Regions from separate parts of the Homo sapiens genome. Here region 2 is linked to region 1. Evidence: fine-mapped expression QTL. A gene starts in region 1. The other region holds a variant in brackets. All regions are shown on one strand. Distances are between the middles of the regions. Region 1 holds the start of COLGALT2 (collagen beta(1-O)galactosyltransferase 2). Region 2 overlaps COLGALT2 (collagen beta(1-O)galactosyltransferase 2).

Evidence for each region. PIP is the estimated chance that this variant, and not a neighbour inherited with it, causes the effect. A credible set is the group of variants that fine-mapping cannot tell apart.
Region 2: its variant is the best candidate, but not a certain one, in a credible set for the expression of COLGALT2 in T cells (TOPMed, PIP 0.74).

The regions. Positions count from the first base shown.
Region 1 is chr1:184,036,294-184,039,206 of GRCh38, forward strand. COLGALT2 (collagen beta(1-O)galactosyltransferase 2) reads right to left here and starts at 1,435. Exons shown (of 12, transcript NM_015101.4): 1 at 802-1,435. The coding sequence starts at 1,064. RefSeq lists a silencer at 1,158-1,247.
Region 2 is chr1:183,964,531-183,967,443 of GRCh38, forward strand. All of the region lies in intron 5 of COLGALT2 (collagen beta(1-O)galactosyltransferase 2), which reads right to left. Among named protein-coding and RNA genes, the nearest start is that of COLGALT2, 72 kb to the right of the region's middle. The variant G/GAAAATT (reference allele first, on the strand shown) is at 1,260.

The sequences.
Region 1 (2,913 bases):
ACCCGCACTTATCCCCTGGCCCTCCCCGCAGCAGACACAGGGACCAGGTCCAAGCTTCTTTCCTCCGGGGACAAAACTTGGCTGTTTATCTTTCCCAGGGCATCTTCGTCTCTCCCCGGGACGTGGAACCCCGATGCACCGGCAGGGACAGCCCGGAGCGCTCGCAGGAGACCAGGCCCACGGTGGTGCCATGGTTGGGCACACTCCGCGGGCTCCGCCCAATCTCCACCCCTAGGTCCAGGTCCCCCTAGGAGAGCTAGGAGCACATTTCCAGCCTGGAGCAGGAGCCCGGCACCGGAAAGTCAGAGCAGCGCACTGCGGCGCCCCAGCCACTGCGGAGCCCCTGGCCAACCGCAGTTACGTTCCATCTGTCGTATCTACATGGGAATACGGCGACAGGCACCCTATCCCCTCACGTCAGGGCTAGCAGTATGAGGTGGGGAAAGAGGAAACCTCGAGAGTTAAAAGCGAGGGAACTGAAAGTCCCCTTGAGGGGTGTCCCCCATGCCCCTTGTGGGACAAAGCCCCAATTCGCAGGCTACCCTCCAGAGCTCCAGCGGTCCGGTTCTCCCCATCAGCACCCTCTGCGCACACTGACCCGCGCGTCCCTCCGCAGCCTGACCGCCCGATCCGCCAGCCACCGGCGCGGGCAGCGAGGGGGTGTGTGCGCCAGATTTTCCGCGTGCCCCCCCGCCCCTCCAGCGGCTCCCTCGCCCTGCAGCTGCTGCTCCGGGCGCTGTCCGCGCTGGGCAGGCCGCCCCCGCGTCCCGCCGCGGCGGCCCGGGGCCCGTGCGCGCTCACCAGATGGCCATCCTGCTCTTGGGGTAGTCCAGCCGCTCCAGGCAGCCGAGGAAGTGCGGCAGCGTGTGCGCCGCGTTGCGGGCGAGGACCGCCACGAGCACCGTGGGGCTCTGCAGGGGCGACTCCGGGAAAACCACCGGCTCCTCTCCGTCGTCCTCCGAGTCCCGCTCGGCGACGAAGCGCGCTCGGCAGCCTTCGCGGAGCAGGGCTGAGGAGAGGAGCAGTAGCGACCAGGCGAGGGTGGCAGCAGGGCGCGCAGCCATGTTCCGGGCCGAGGCGGGCGGCGGGGAAGTCCTGGCGCGAGCGCCCGGCTGGGCTGCCTGAGGGCGGCGGCGGCTGCCGGGGAGCAAGGGGCTGCGAGGGGCGGCCGGGGGATGCGGCTTGCCGCGGCCGGCCGGCTCACACACTGGCCTCGGCGGCTGCGGTTCCCAGGACCCTCCCGCCGCCGCTGCACCGCCCAGGCCCCAGTGCGGGTGCGCAGCGTACCTGCAGCCGCTGGCGCTCCCCTGCGCCTCGGGCTCGCAGACAGTAGTGGCCGAGGGGCTGTGTGCCCTGAGTCCTGAGGAAAGTTCCTCTAGTCCAGGTTCCGCTCGTACAGCTGAGGTCTGTGGCCTTCCCTAGAGCCGCGAGTTGTGGCCCTGTCTGCCAATGAGCCTGTGAGTGTGTGTGTGTGTGTGTGTGTGTGTGTGTGTGTGTGTACATAACGGTACAACCCCAAGAAAATTTATTCTGCTTTTGCAAACCGCAGACTGAAGCCCTTCACAGTGATGCAATGTATCCAGTTTTCATAATGCACCTATTGACTGAGTAGAGTTCTAAAATGAAAAGTCTCCCCAACTATTCACGATTATGACAAACACTTGTTTAACCACCGCAAAGGCAGCATGTCGCATTTTCTTATATACTCAACTTCTGAAATTCATTCTTGACTGAGTAGACACCTAATAACACAAAGTTTGAAGACTTGGAGAATTTTGGAGCCAGATCAGACCCCGCAAAATAAAAGAAAGCCCTTGGGAGACACTGTCCTGAAGCCTCACTCTACTGTGAACCCAGTAAGCCTCCTCACAGGAGGGCTGTGAAAGAATAAATTCACTTAGCTGGTTTTCTTTTTCCGTAATAAGCCAATATGATAGAGTAACAAAGAGGGAAAATTCGCGCATGTTGGAGAGCAGAGAAGAGATAAGGAAGAAAAGAAGGGGTGAAGGAAGAACACAATTAGCACATAAAATGAAACTGCTGGCATACACTGCTAAAGGAGATTTACTTTTTTTTTTTTTTTTTTTTTGAGACAGGGCCTCACTCTGTTGCCGGGGCTGGAGTGCAGAGGCACGATCACAATTCACTGCAGCCTCGACCTCCTGGGCTCAAGCAATCCTCCCACCTCAGCCTCCCGAGTAGCTGGGACCACAGGTGTCCATCACCACGCCTAGCTAATTTTTTTTTTTTTTTTTTTTTTTGTAGAGACGGGTTTTCACCATTTTGCCCAGGCTGGTCTGGAACTCCTGGGCTCAAGTGATCTGCCCAACTCGGCCTCCCAAAGTGTTACGATTACAGGCATCAGCCACCATGCTCGGCTGGATATTTAGTTTTGAAGATATATTGTGTAGCCTTTGATAGATAAGTATGGAGGGTGTTTTGGTGCCAGTGCACATTCATGATCTCCAATCCCAACTCACCCTCAGGTCTGTCCCATAGTCTTTTTATTAGTTGTTATCAATCCTTCTCAGCAACTATTAGAAGTCTTCCCTACTGTCTTTTGAAGTATATCACCTCCTTCATCCAGCTCCCCCAACACCACTGTCTCCAACTAGCATCCCTACCAAGACCTTTCTTACTTGCAGGTGCCTCCTCACGACAGGGTCTTTGATCACAGACTAGAAAGGGAGAGGTCTCCCTTTCTAGCCCATGATTTTTCTCTATCATTCCACTCTCTACTGAATCTTCAACTGATCTCTATCAACTCCTTTCTCTCAAGCTAAATACTTGGTCAGTCTTCTCTTATCCGTTAAAAAAAAAAGAAAGAAAAGCTTTAAAAAAAAGTCCTGTGTCTTCTTCTAGTCATCCCTTTGCTTGACCAAGCTCCTTGGAAGAGAGATCTATACTTGTATT
Region 2 (2,913 bases), 72 kb before region 1:
CTCCCTGGTTTTATTGCTTCCCTTAGCAGGCATGGATTTGGAGCCAACCAACAGACATGAAACTTCCAAAATCAGTTCATATAGAGACAAAAGAGTCTGCATTTCAGAATGTCCTGTTAAGAACCTGTAGTGTGACAATACCAGAAGTATGCAATACCCTTCTCATATTCAAATTGTTCTTCATAGCCCCACCTGATAACTTGCAGAGTTATAAGGCATCTGTGTTTAACCAGACAGCTAGAAATATAGGAATCAGGATGGTCTCATACACATCATTGGTCAGCAATTGACACTCCTGATCAATGATAAGACTGCTTAGTGAAAAGGATGAGTCCGCCATGTATCCAAGCCTCTGGTCCATGTATCCAAGCCTGTGATTTGTTAATTGCGATAATTGTCAGTGTTTTCCAGAGAGATAATTATCTGCATAGGGACTCCTCTATTTTGTGCAGATGAAATTTCCTCCAGTCAGCTACATCATCTGTCAAATCAGGTGAAGCTGTCTCATGGCATTAACAGAGAGGAAGGAGAAAAGAAAATAACCTTTATTCCCTGCTTTTACTGAATCTGGCTTGAATCAAGGCTGGTCTACCAAGCACTGTCCCTTCTCTTGCCTTCACCGAGCAAACTCATTAGCTCTGCTGTTTGCCCATATGAATGCTTCTGGGGAGCTTCAAAGTGCACCTTCTTGTAAAGTCATGATGAATTCAGGAAGTGGAAGGAAAAATATATTAAAGTTGCATCTCTACCCTAATTAGGCAAACCATTTTACCATTTAACTTTCTGAGGCTTCCATAAAAAAATGATATGATACCTATCCAAATTATCCATCAAGTGTGAGGGTACAAGGAAGGCATTTTTAGACATGCAAGACCATAATATATTTACTTGCCATCATACTTTCTCAGAAAGCTGCTGGATGATGTGAGAGAAGGACGAGGAGGAAAGGAAGGAAGAGGAGGAGGAGGAAGAAGAGGAGGACGATTATAACCAACAAGAAAGATTATAAACAACATGAACAGGAGAGTCAGTGTATAAGAGAAGAGAAATAAGTCTTAGGTTGATAGCTTCAGCACCACTTGGATTAGAATATATTAGAAAGCTCCAGAACAGACGTCTTCGCAAATATGCAAAAAAGGACATCTGACAAATCTGGACATTCTGAGAGGAGTTTGAGGTAATTAGTGATTAGTTTTGGATCATACTAGTAATAATAAAACTAAGCAAAAAAGGCAATTATTAAAGGAATTGCCTCCAAA[G/GAAAATT]AATGGCAAAGGAAAACTAATCATAGCCTATGAATGACCAAGCTTGGAGTTAGGCTTGCATGATTACAACAAGAACACTGACCATCAATCTGTTTGAAATTACAATGGGAGAACAGGGTGATGAGAAGAATGTGTTTGCATGCAGAGGGCAAAAAGGAAGAAAAAGAGCTAACTCCTCACAGTCTATAGTGGAGAGTCAACAAATAATGCCCACGGTGAAGCCAGAAAATCAAGAAGTAGCAATGCATGCATATTATTTAACATGGAAGTAAATATTAGAGATAAAAGTGGTTGCCTTCTGGAGGACAGAAGTGATGCAGGGTGATGTGCAGGGGACTGTTCATTTCTTAATAAACCATGGGGAACTATATGAATACTTTCAACCATGTGCATGGGCAGTTTGATAACAGAAAATTTAAAAGAAAATGTATTAATAATTAGATAAAGTCTATGAAAGAGTCTGCACTCCCAGTGAATGCTGCTTCTGGGGAAGACAATTTTTCTTTTGAAAAAGAGAAGTGAATTACGCTACATTTTGAAGGACTGTTTTTCTTTTAAACATATTAAACATTTTCTTGTACTCATATAGTACCTTAACATTGCAGATTGATGTAATTATCCCTATCTTTGGTGATGAAAAATCAGATTCAGGCTGTCACTTGTCCAAGGTCACATAGTAAGTCATTAGTGCCAAATCTTTGTCCCTAAAGAGCCAATGCCAAGTGCTTTCTACCCAGTCAGTAATTGGAAGCTCAGTTCCAAGACCATTAGTCACTAGGGGATTGCCATCCCTCCACAAGGGGACAAATTTGATCACTACCAGTGGTGTTCAGGATCTGTCTGCCCATTGCCCATATCACTCACCTCTTTTGACTCACATCAGACATTTGGAAGACGACTGGCTGGCACTGGGATGATTCCTGTGGCCATGATACAGAACCCAGATCACTGGCCACAATGGGAGGTGAACTCTTGACCCTGGACTCATTACAGGAACAGAGACGCGCCTATGACCATATGTGCTCTCTTCTTGGGCTAGAAGGGTGGCCAAGCCCTGCTCACCAGCACACTTGGATTGCTCCTCACTCATCACCCACATGGGGCAATGGCTAGAGTCTGGGGTGAAAGATTTAGGACCAAGGTTTGTGGTTGGATGGTCCTGCCTGGGACATAGATGATACACAGCTAGGGAGCTTCAGAAGAGTGAGAACAAAAGAATACCAATCATATTTCATGAAGAAAGAGGAAAGTGCTTTGCTTTGAAACTAAGGAAGGAAGAGCCTGGAGACATGCCCTGGGCTGCACATGACTCCCAGGCTCATTCATGTTTCTCTTGAAAATACTTAGAGATAAGTACAATATTACCTTAAAATCCACAGTTGTCAAGAAAGACCTTTCATTTCCCCAAAATGACAGTGAATCTTTCCTGCCTTGACTCCTGCCCTGTTCATGGTCTGCACCGCCAGTCTGGCCCTTAGCTTTCACTGCTTCATGACTATTAGTTGTGTTTTCACATGTAAAAATCTTAACTCCCAACTAACACCGTGCCAGGAACAGAAGGAAACACTTGGGAGTTCATCCTCTCTCTTTCCTTTTCTATCTCCTCTTCCCAAATGAGTCACCAAACAACTTTGGGTGTCTACCTGCTTTCAAT